Linked DNA regions of Homo sapiens. The protein of the gene in region 1 interacts with the protein of each later gene in a biochemical or structural test. Each region holds a gene or a part of one and is shown in the gene's direction. Other genes may lie near its edges.

What was found.
Region 2: the proteins of CRB3 (region 1) and PARD6B form a complex in vitro, tested with the Homo sapiens proteins (one study listed by BioGRID).
Region 3: the proteins of CRB3 (region 1) and PALS1 form a complex in vitro, tested with the Homo sapiens proteins (one study listed by BioGRID).

The regions. Positions count from the first base shown.
Region 1 is NC_000019.10:6,462,598-6,466,342, forward strand, and holds the start of CRB3 (protein crumbs homolog 3 isoform a precursor), read left to right. Parts: upstream 1-1,673; 5' UTR 1,674-1,753; intron 1,754-2,010; 5' UTR 2,011-2,104; coding exon 2,105-2,186; intron 2,187-2,947; coding exon 2,948-3,021; intron 3,022-3,745. UniProt on the Homo sapiens protein: Involved in the establishment of cell polarity in mammalian epithelial cells. Regulates the morphogenesis of tight junctions.
Region 2 is NC_000020.11:50,729,520-50,733,264, forward strand, and holds the start of PARD6B (partitioning defective 6 homolog beta), read left to right. Parts: upstream 1-2,060; 5' UTR 2,061-2,267; coding exon 2,268-2,333; intron 2,334-3,745. UniProt on the Homo sapiens protein: Adapter protein involved in asymmetrical cell division and cell polarization processes. Probably involved in formation of epithelial tight junctions.
Region 3 is NC_000014.9:67,239,427-67,243,171, forward strand, and holds the start of PALS1 (protein PALS1), read left to right. Parts: upstream 1-2,008; 5' UTR 2,009-2,107; exon of another isoform or gene 2,108-2,156; intron 2,157-2,247; exon of another isoform or gene 2,248-2,559; intron 2,560-3,745. UniProt on the Homo sapiens protein: Plays a role in tight junction biogenesis and in the establishment of cell polarity in epithelial cells.

The DNA.
Region 1 (3,745 bases):
TCCTAAAACAGGTCTATTCCACATCAGAGTGCCTTAGTTAGCTGTTTGTGATGATAATGCAGGCGTGTTCTATAGAGATACTGTCCACCCTGGTGGTATGTATCCATTTGGTTATATTTCTTTTCTTTTTTTGACAGTCTTGCTCTGTCACCCAGGCTAGAGTGCAGTGGCGTGATCTCGGCTCACTGCAACCTCCGCCTCCAGGGTTCAAGCGATTCTCCTGCCTCAGCCTCCCAAGTAGCTAGGATTACAGGCGCCCACCACTACGCTAGCTAATTTTTGATTATTTTTTAGTAGAGACGGGGATTTCACCATCTTGGCTAGGCTGGTCTCGAACTCGTGACCTCGTGATCCACCTGCCTCGGCCTCCCAAAGTGCTAGGATTACAGGCGTGGGCCACCATGCCCAGCCTTGGCTATATTTCGTATAGCTGTGATTCAATGCAGATTTTTTTTTTTTTTTATGAGATGGAGTTTCACTCTTGTCACCCAGGGTGGAGTGCAATGGTGCAATCTCGGCTCACTGCAATCTCTGTCTCCTGAGTTCAAGCAATTCTCCTGCCTCAGCGCCCCCCGAGTAGCTGAGATTACAGGCACCTGCCACCACACCCGGCTAATTTTTGTATTTTTAGTAGAGACAAGGTTTCACCATGTTGGGCAGGCTGGTCTGGTTTCGAACTCCTGACGTCAGGTGATCCTCCTGCCTAGGCCTCCCAAAGTACTGGGATTACAGGCGTGAGCCGCCGCACCCGGCCATCTGTTTTCTGTATGTTCTTATATGTGAACACCTGTGCAGTTGTCTTCTGTACAGGTTTGGTTCCACACAGGTGTTTACCATACAGCTGTTTTTTTGTTTTTAAAATTTTTTTAGAGACAGGGTCTCACTTTGTCACCCAGGCTGGAGTACAGTGGTACAATCATAGCTCACTCACTGTTACCTCCACTCCTGGGCCCAATCGATCCTCCCACCTCAGCCTCCCAAGTAGCTGGGGCTACAGGTGCGTGCCATCACATCTGGCTAATTTTCTTATTTTTTGTAAATATGGGGCCTCCGTCTGTGGGCCAGGCTGATCTCGAACTCCTGGCCTCAAGTGATTCTCTTACTTCGGCCTTTCAAAGCGCTGGGATTACAGGATCACGCCACCGCCCCCGGCTTATTTTCTTCTTTTTATTTATTTGTTTATTTATTTATTTATTTTTTGTAGAGAATGAGGCCTCGCTGTGTTGCCCAGGCTGGTCTCGGACTCCTGGCCTCAAGCAATCCTCTTGCCTCGGCCTCTCAAAGTGTTGGGATTACAGGCGTGAGCCATTGCGCCTGGGCAGGTATTTTTTCTCATTAAGCGCTCCCCATCCAAGTCTGCCCTAGGCAGGAGTGCCTAGTGCACGGGTACATACATACCCCGTGCGTCTCCACACCTGTGCGCTCCCACAGATATGCTCGCAATGCAGGTGTAAGGTCCCCCTCACACCTGCGCGCTTCCGCGGTCTCCCTCCCCGCATCCCCATTAAGGGACTGGGGTCCCGTTACAGGTGCGCCCACAGCGCGGCCCCGCCCCCTTCTTGACTCCGCCCTCTCAGCGAGGCTCAGGTGCACAAGCCGGAAGTGCGCTCTCCCAGGTGAGTGACTAAACTTTCCGGGTCACGTGACAGGGCGGAGCCGGTGGGGTCGGACCCACAGAACGACCGACGGACCGAGGGTTCGAGGGAGGGACACGGACCAGGAACCTGAGCTAGGTCAAAGACGCCCGGGCCAGGTAGGAAGGCAGGACGCACCGCTAGGCCTGCCCCCTCGCCCGTCCACCCTGCCCGTCCCGTCCCGTCCCGTCCCGTCCCCTTCCTTTCCCCAGCCCAGGAACGCGCTCCTGGGAGTTAATCTTTAATCGCTGACCTCTGGCGGCTGGGGCGGGGCGGGACTCATGGGTGCCCTGGCGCCAGTTGTCTCTCCTGTGGGCCTGCGCCGGGGTCCCCACCCCGATCCCAACGCCTGGGCCTCTCCTTCTCCTGTCCCCAGGTGCCCCGTCGCAGGTGCCCCTGGCCGGAGATGCGGTAGGAGGGGCGAGCGCGAGAAGCCCCTTCCTCGGCGCTGCCAACCCGCCACCCAGCCCATGGCGAACCCCGGGCTGGGGCTGCTTCTGGCGCTGGGCCTGCCGTTCCTGCTGGCCCGCTGGGGCCGAGCCTGGGGGCAAAGTAGGTACCAGCTGAGAGCGCTGGGGGGGAGGGGTCTGGATTCCTGGATCTCTGCTGGGGACGTGGCTTAGAAGCGCTGGGTATCTGGGGCGCAGAGAGGGTCAAGAATTGGGGAGCGGGGAAGAAATACCTTGGGGAGGGGTCTACAGGGTTAGGGCTCGGGGGGATTAAGATTTCTAGTTTCTTCCTTGGACACTGGGAGTTGGTCTAGGAGACCTGAGTTCCCCAGCGAGGTGGAATTGTGTGTTGGAGTGGGGGCTCCTAAGTAGGACTTGGGGGGAGGTAAGGGCTGCGTACCTGAGTCTTGGTATAGTGCAGGTGTTTTTGGGTGAACTGGGAGCTGGGAGGAGGCCTGCCGAGCCGGGTCGACCTGGTTGGCTGAAGGTGTAGACCCCAGCCATTCAGTCTTAGATTTGTTTTGGGAGCCTGTGGGGAGGTGTGAGTCAGACACTCCAGGGAAAAGCTAGGCCCGCCCAGATCCTTAAGGGCCCAGGGCCGAGAGGTGAGTAGGGGAGGGGTGGACTTCTGGACACCCTACTGGGCTCTGCGGGACTGGGTCGGGGGGGTGTCCTGGGGAGCAAACACCCAAGGGAGAGGTCTTACCTGCAAGACACCCAACCATCTCTGTGCGAATGAAAGGCAGAGTTTGAATTGGGACCTGCTAGGGGGAGGTGAAGGGGAATGCCCAAAGCAGGTGCAGATGGGCGGGGATGGGAGAGAAAGATGGAGACTGAGTTATTCTCTGCCTTCACCCTCCACAGTACAGACCACTTCTGCAAATGAGAATAGCACTGTTTTGCCTTCATCCACCAGCTCCAGCTCCGATGGCAACCTGGTGAGTTGGAGGTATATGTGGGAAGATGGCAGCAAGGATGTTATCTAGGGGTCACACATATAGCATGTAGAGAGGACTAGACACCCCCTCCCCCCAGAGGTGGCAGGTCAGGGTGGCTTTGGAGAGCTCTAAGTAGGAGAGACCTGAAGTCTTAGACCAAGAAGACTAGGACACCCTGGAGGGAGTGGGCAGGAATACTGTAGCTGTCAGATGTGTGGGCTCAGGAATTCCATATGCCTCTCAGGTGGGTGGGGGAGCAAGGAGCTCAGACTTGGTAGATGTGATGAAAGCAGGAGTCCCGGCCGGGCGCGGTGGCTCACGCCTGTAATCCTAACACCTTGGGAGGCCGAGGCAGGAAAATCATGAGGTCAGGAGTTTGAAACCAGCACGGCCAACATGGTGAAACCCTGTCTCTACTAAAAATACAAAAAATTAGCCAGGCGGGGTGGCACACACCTGTAATCCCAGCTACTTGGGAGGCTGAGGCAGGGGGAATTGCTTGAGCCCAGAAGGCGGAGGTTGCAGTGAGCCGAGATTGTGACACTGCACTCCAGCCTGGGCAACAGAGCAAGACTCGGTCTCAAAAAAAAAAGCCGGAGTCCCAGACATGGCAGGTGCTTGCGAGGGGTGTCCCGGACATGGCAGGTGGTGGGGAGCCTTCGCACCCCAGACAAGGTAGGTAGGGATCCAGGAAGCCCCACTGTGGGGATCAGATCACCAAAAG
Region 2 (3,745 bases), on another chromosome or scaffold:
ACATGTGATGACATCATCACTCTGATGACTGTTGGAATGCATGCTTGTGTACTCCCATGTTTTGGACACATCCGTTTTAATTCTAAGATAAATATTGAAAGACATTACACATAAACAAAGTACTTTGGGGTCCTCCATGATTTTTAATAGTGTAAAGGGGTCTTGAAAACAAAAAGGTTGGGAACTGCTGTGCTAGTCCAAACAGGGGAGTTACAGGCCCTGACATGCACTTTATTTCCGGCTGAACTTGAGTCACCTCCTATGTGCTTTCAAACAGGGGGTGGAGGCAGCTTGCTTATTTATTATACAGCTTGGATTGGTGTCCTTTCCACCTGTGCTGCCACAGGTGGCCAGAAAAACCTTAAATCCTCCCACAAAACGTCTGGTTACCTGAATCCTCCAGAGGGAAAAAAATGAGCTTCTCGCCTTTGAACCCAAGTGGGGCAAAGAGCCTGCAGAAGGGACACCCTCAGTGGCAGCACCCAGCAAAGACCCATCTGAGTACCCGCTGGGAGTCGGGTTCTGTGCCACTCAATGCCAGCAAAGCACAAGCCGTCCCTGCGCCTTCGGGAGCTTTCATTCTAGGCTGGTGGCAGATTACTCACAAAACTCAGATGCACACAAAAATGGGAAACCTGTAACTTGTAACAAGTGCTGGGCAACAGGGGTACAAGTGTTAGGAGGCCTCCGAGGTGGGCAGGGAGATGAGGGGAGGAAGGTACCCTAACCACTCTTCTTGCCAAATCTCAGGTTGGACCTTCCCCTCCACCTCCATTCCCCTGCCCCCTTCCTGGCTTGCAGGTTTCAACAGCTCTTGGATTCCCGGGTCCCACAGGGAGACCTTGGGACCTGGGAATCTCCTCCAGCCAAAAGCTTCAGTCTTCTCCTCTCCTCCCCATGACCCACAGGGTCTGTGTGAAGAGAGGCCGGGCTCTGGGACGTTCAGAGAGGAGGATTCAGCGTTTTGTTGCTCTGGGACACAGCTTGGTCACTCCGGGAAACGAACACAACCTAGAGGCTGTCATTTGTAGAAACAGCGAATGGCCAAGGAATGGCGGGAGGAGGGAAAAGGAAGACTTTTAAAGAAAAAAAAAAAAAGCCCTGAAAGACTGGACTAGAAATCCTCAGGGAGGCTGGGCCTGCAAGGAGCCTTCCCGCGCCTCAGCCCACTTTCCTTCCCTCTCGACCTGACGGACTTAAGGCGTGCAGAGTCTCTTCGGACAAAATGAAGCCAAGAGAGCCCTAAGCTTCTCCCCCAGCAACCGCTGCAGAGGCGGGAAAACTTGAATTTTGCAACCAAGAGTTGCAGCGGGACGCCTAAGCAACGATAAGGGGCGGTGGAGGGGCGTCGTTGGGGGCTGCAGCATCCCAAAGTGGAAGCGGGAAGGGGGCCCGGCTGGAACCGAATAGCCCCGCAGCGCCTCGGCAACCGGACGGGCGGCGCATCCAATCCCCTGGACCGTGCGTGTGACTGGCGCGCGCTAAGCGGCGCGAGCCCCGGCGGAGCCGGGCAACCAGGCGCGCGCTCGCGCGTGCGCAAAAGGCCCACCCAGCCGAGCCCTTCTTCAGGTGCGCTCGCGCTTCCGGCCGGCCTCCCCGCGTGCCTTCCCGGGGCGGAAACTCCAGCACCCGCGCATGCGCCTTCTGGCTCTCCGGCCTGAAGCGGGGCGGAGGGCCATGGCTTCAGGTGATCCCGCCCCTCCCTCGTAGCGCAGGACCAATCGTGCGGTGGTAGGCGGGGTTTTGAGGAGGCAGCCCGCCCACGCACCGCGCGAGGCGTGTATCGATTGGTTGGCGCCGCGGGCGCAGGTGCGCGCTTTCTATTGGGTGTGGGCGGAACGCGAGGGATTGCGGCATCTTCGGGGGCTGCAGGTGAGCGCGCGCACGCGCCGCGGCTGTGGTCCGCTCGGGTGCGCGCGCGCGGGCTCGCGGGGGAGGCGGCAGAGGGAGAGGTTGCGGCGCTTGTGGCCTCCGCTCCGCCCCCTCCTCTCCTCCAGCGCTGTCGCCGTCGCCGCCGGGGCCCGGAGGGAGGGAGCTGCTTCCCCGCCTGCCGCGCCACCAGTCCGACCCTCGGTCCCGCCGTGTGAGCAGCTGGTGGAGTGGAGCTCAGCGCGGACGCCGGAGCTGCGGCCGCCCCCTCTGCAGGTGCCTGTGAGGAGGCGCCCGGGCCGCAACCGCTTTCCGAGATCCCCAGTCGCGCACTCGCTCCCCGCGCTCCTGAGGGGCCGCCCGGCCGGAGGAGGCCGTCGCGGGGCTCGGCGTTCAGCATGAACCGCAGCCACCGGCACGGGGCGGGCAGCGGCTGCCTGGGCACTATGGAGGTGAAGAGCAAGGTGCGCGGGGCCCGGGCTGGGCGGAGCGGCGGGCCTGGGGGGCCGGGGCCTGGGAGAGGCCGGGCCAGGCTCGGAGCGCCGGGGGAGGCGACGGGCTGAGCTGCCCCGGGGTCTGGACGGTGCGGTCGGGAGACTGTGGGTAATAAACTTGCCGAGGAGGGGGTGGCGGGGGTCAGGGGGCGCTAGTGTCCGCCCCTGGCCCGGGCAGGAAGAAGACCTAGTCCAGCATTTAATCTCATTCCGTAAATCTCATTCCCGTGTTCACGGACGGGAGTAGGGGCCAAGGTATATCCAAGGATGGCGCACACTGAGTGAAATGCGAGGCTGCTCAAAAGGTGTAGGAGAATCCTGCCTGCTGGGCTGTGAGTAAAGGGCCCTGGACCACCCCGTTGTTCCCACTTTCTGTGGTTAAGGGGCGCATCGAGTGGCGAAGGAGAGAGCCCAGTGAACTAAACAGCCCTTTAAAAGTTCGCTTTGCTTCCTGCTGGCGCTCTTTCTAGCACTAACTTTGGTATGCATTTAATCTGTAAAATTAGTACTATCACCTTACGTTGGAGTAGCACTTTACAGTTTGACTCTAGATGCTCTTTTCATTCCATCCTGCTACCTACTCACATCAAGTGCTTTTCCCCTTGACCAACGGTATGCCAATCTGCTGATAATTACTTCGGTATTCACTGAATTTCTAAATCTCAAGGCTCAGTGAGCAGGGTAGTCTGTAGGGAGGGATTAGTTAGGGAATGCCTTCCAAAGGGGGTTTTGAGCTGGAATTTGAAGGTGATCGGCAGCCAAGGGAACACTTTCAGCAAGCGTTTCTTGAGTTGAAGAGTTAAAAGGAGCTTAGATAATCTAGCCCAATTCTCTGAGAAGACTGAGGCTTAGAAAGGTTATGACTTCCTCAAGCTGTTTTTTTGCAAAGCCTTCATGCCTTTTTAATAACTTCTAGACATTGCAGAATACAAAACAGGACACTGGCTGGGCCCTGAGAACATTTAAAATAGAATTGAGAAGGCCAAAACACAGAAAAGGAGAAAATTGAAAGTATATCAATTTCAAAAAAAAAAAGTAATGGAGCATCATAGATGGTAAGACTACTAAGGAGTATGTAAAATCAAGGAGTGATTTGAGTGAGGTACAGTGGAGTAAGGAAAGCTTCCTAGAGCCTCTAGGTAGAATAGTTTTATTGTCTAGGGTTGATAAGCAAAGTTCTGTAAGTTTCTGTAACTGAGAATCACATCGAGAAAATCGACATTCGTTTGTAACATCATTAAAAAATGTGATTTGAGTCTGGGCGCGGTGGCTCACGCCTGTAACCCCAGCACTTTGGGAGGCCGAGGCGGGTGGATCACCTGAGGTCAGGAGTGCCAGACCAGCCTGGCCAACATGATGAAACCCCATCTCTACTAAAAATA
Region 3 (3,745 bases), on another chromosome or scaffold:
CACAGGACAGTCCCCACAAGAATTATCCAGCCCAAATGTCAATAGTGCCAAGGATGAGAAATTATAAGCTAGAGAAAGAAGAATTCATTGACGAGCTGGAGGAAGCTTCTTGAATTATTATTTATGTTATATATTTAAGAACTTAGAGGCGGGGCACGGTTGCTCACGCCTGTAATCCTAGCACTTTGGAAGGCTGAGAAAGGTGGATCACCTGAGGTCAGGTGTTCAAGACCAGCTTGGCCAATGTGGCGAAACCCCGTCTCTACTAACAATACAAAAATTAGCCGGGCGTGGTGGCTGGCACCTGTAATCCCAGATACTGGGGAGGCTGAGGGAGGAGTATCGCTTGAACCCGGGGAGCGGAGGTTGCAGTGAGCCGAGATTGCGCCACTTTACTCCAGCCTGGGCAAAAGAGCGAAACTCCGTCTCAAACAAAAACAAAAACAAAAGAACTTAGAAAAGGAAGTAAGTCACACACAGTAACCGTTTTTTCTTTTGGGGTATGGCTAGTAGTTTCTAGGAATCCTGGAGACTTTATCTGGATTTCAGTTAGGCATTTCACCAGTTCTCATGGCATCTTTATGGAGGAATATGGGCCAAGAAGACAGTTCGGTTGTGTCGTCCACCTGTATTCGAAGCCTACTGAGAAATTTTTGATGGCAGGAGCATTAAGGTCTTTAGTGGCATGCAGCAGAGTTCTGTCCTCCGCTCTGTCTTATTAAACACTTGGACAGAATGCTGATCAGATTTGAGAAGGATAACAAATCTGGGAAGGGTAGGCATCCCCAAAGATCTTCACCACCAGGAACAACGGTTTGCTTCGTTCAGGCCATCACAGTGTCCTTAGTGAGGGACACCACAACCCATAGGCTGTCCAGAGGAGCGTAATGGGGAAGAATGTGAAAGAGCTTGAAAATCAGGACCTGAGGACATTGCGAGATGGAAAAACACCGTGGGACAAAATGAGGAAAACCGAGAGAAATGGAAATGGCATATACGAAGGCTTTGAGGGAGGACTGTGCCCCTGGGGGAAACTGTGCCCCCGGGCTGGAGTCACAGGCATAGTTTGGCCTCATAGAAGGAGAGGTCGATTAACAAACCTTGCAAGTGTTCAAATGTGGAATGGGCTTGCTCGGAAGGTACTGTCAAGACAGAGACCATCCGAGGGCTTTTATTGCAAGTGTCGAGACACATTGCTGGTGTTTCTCCTTAGAACGTCCTCCAATCTGCTCTGACTTCCGCCCGCACCCGCCTGAGTCCTGCCCCATTCCAAGGGTGGCACATCCAGGTCCCGAGGGCGCCAGCCATGCCCGGAGCACGGGCTGATCTGCGTAACTCTGTCCCTTCGGGAGACTTCTGGGAAATAGTTCTAGTCCTTGCTATCCTTGCTTTCTGGTTTTCAGAAATCAGTGCAGCTGCTGGCTTTATGCAGTCTTCTGCGGGACACTGCACACATCCAGGTGTTTATGTCATTTTTTAAAAAAAACAAATGTTAGATTGGGTGACTAACTTGACAGGACATGAGGAATCTCTTCAAGAGGAATCAGATTTTCTTCAGGATACGTCATCCAGAGACAAGAGCCAAGGGATGTAGAAACCCAGGGAAGCCTCGCGTCCCCACAAAGCCCGCCGGCCAAATCCCGAAGGGGCTCTACCGGGCCAGCTAGCCCGGAGCAGTCCGCGTTTTAGACTTAGAGGCGCGCGACTGCGCGCACCCGGCTGGAGCTGCGGAGAGGACCAATGAGCGGGCGCTCTCTCCGCTCCGGCTCGGGATTGGGCAAGCCGCGCCAGCCTCTCACGGGCGGGGTGGGACTCGGATCCGCGCGCCCACTGCGCCAGAGTCCCGGGGGCGCGTGCGCGGTCTCGCGGCGGCCGCAGGGGCCGGTCTCGCGCGGTCTAGAAGTGGAGTTGCTGGCGGCTGCGGCGGTGACGGCGGCGACGGAGGAGGCAGGCGGTGGGGCGGGGGCGGGGACTAAGGATTCTGAGGTGGGGAGTCGGGAGTTTCTGGATTCTTTATCCGGAATTTCAAGGGCCGCCGGAGGGCTGTCGCTTCTGCAGTGCGTAGGAGCGGCCGGGGCGGGAGGCTCCGCGGAGCCGAGGCGTGGAGGTAAGAGGCGGATCGGCGGCGGCTGGGCTGTAGAGATCTTAATCAACAGGTCCCTGGGAGCGCGGCGGGGGAGGGGCGGGCGGCCGGGCTCCCCTTCCCCCACACGCTGCGCAAACTCCGGCCAGCGGGAGACCCCTGGCAGCCAGGCGGGCTTCCTCAGGCGCGCGAGCTGCGGCCGTGGAGGGTGTGAGCCCAACCTTTGTCCCTCGGAGCAACGCTGCCTGCGCGGTGCCCGCTCCTTCTGCTTGGCTGGGCATGCACCTTGGCGCGGGCCACAGCCAGCCGAGCCCGAGGTGCAGGGGGCGCGGCGGGGAGTCGTCTGCCCCCTGCGCCCTCTCTCCGAGGTCGCGACGCGCGGGACTCTCCCGGCCGGGTCTGGGAAATCGGCGAGGGAACGCTTTCCTTTAGAAGTCAGAATGTAGTCAGCGTTCCTCTGCCTGACTCAGCTGCTGGTATTCTGCTGCTCATTGCGTTCTTAAACACGCAAACAGTTCCTGCTTCCTTGTGACCACTTTAAAAGAAAAGCCTAGTTTTGTTCATGGTTTCTGATACTTTAAGGTTGCACGTTGAACTTTGAAGCATGTAAATTGTTATAACCTACGTTTAATGAAGTTTGCTTTAAACGATCTTTGTAGTAAATTATGTAACTTTCTAATGATCATAACTCACCTTCTGTTGATTGACATACAGTAATGTGTACGGAATGTAGGTTTCGGTCAAAAGGTTTTTCTTGGCAGTTTATGCTAAAATTAAAATCTGATGGCTAGGAAGTTTTTAGATGTAGTATGGAGTGTGTGTTTTGTCTCCATACTCGTTTAGAATAGTAAGAATTTAGATTTGGAAAGTCAGTTGAACAAAAATTTTGAAATTTTGATTTGACTGACGCAGTGAAAGGTGTTAATATTTCTGATTTTTTAAAAAAGCAATATCATGTTTTAATGATAGTTTACTAATTATGCTTTTGGATTATACCAGAAGTTAATAACCTGTTAAATTATGCAATAGGAACAAATGACGTGTTGGTTATTGGTGTCTTTGAAGTATTGGTGGTAATGAAACTTATTAAATAAGCTTCCTTGAATTAAGAACTACGATTTTTTTTTTTTACTAGATCCCTGTGGACATAGCTATTGTGGATAGGTTTTATAGGCTTTCTATTTGCGGCAGGATGAGCTATTAAATTATAATGTAAGAGATTTATAGATAAAACAGGCAAAAATAGGAAAAGCAATTCATTATTTTATCTTTAAAAATCTGGTAAATTTTACCATGTACCTGAATTAGTTTTGGCAAGACGGACTTGAACTTGACAAATTAAGGTGGATTGATTAACATTAATTTGTTTTAGAATGTTAAAACGGGAGAGAATATATAAGTTCTACTTGAGGGTGACCCAAGTCAGTACAGTGGGTTTAGCTTTTACATGATCTTGAATTATGATTTTGATTAAAAATCTCATCACAGGGGCACGTGTTTTCAGGATCTCCTGAGGGCTGTGTCATGGAAAAAATAAAATTTATCACCCATTCCAAGAAATTTGATCAATTTTATATATTATTTACTGAAATGCCCTATTTCTCTGATATTTTCTGATTTCAGAGTGTCTAGAAAAAAATAGTATCTTGACATATGTGCTTA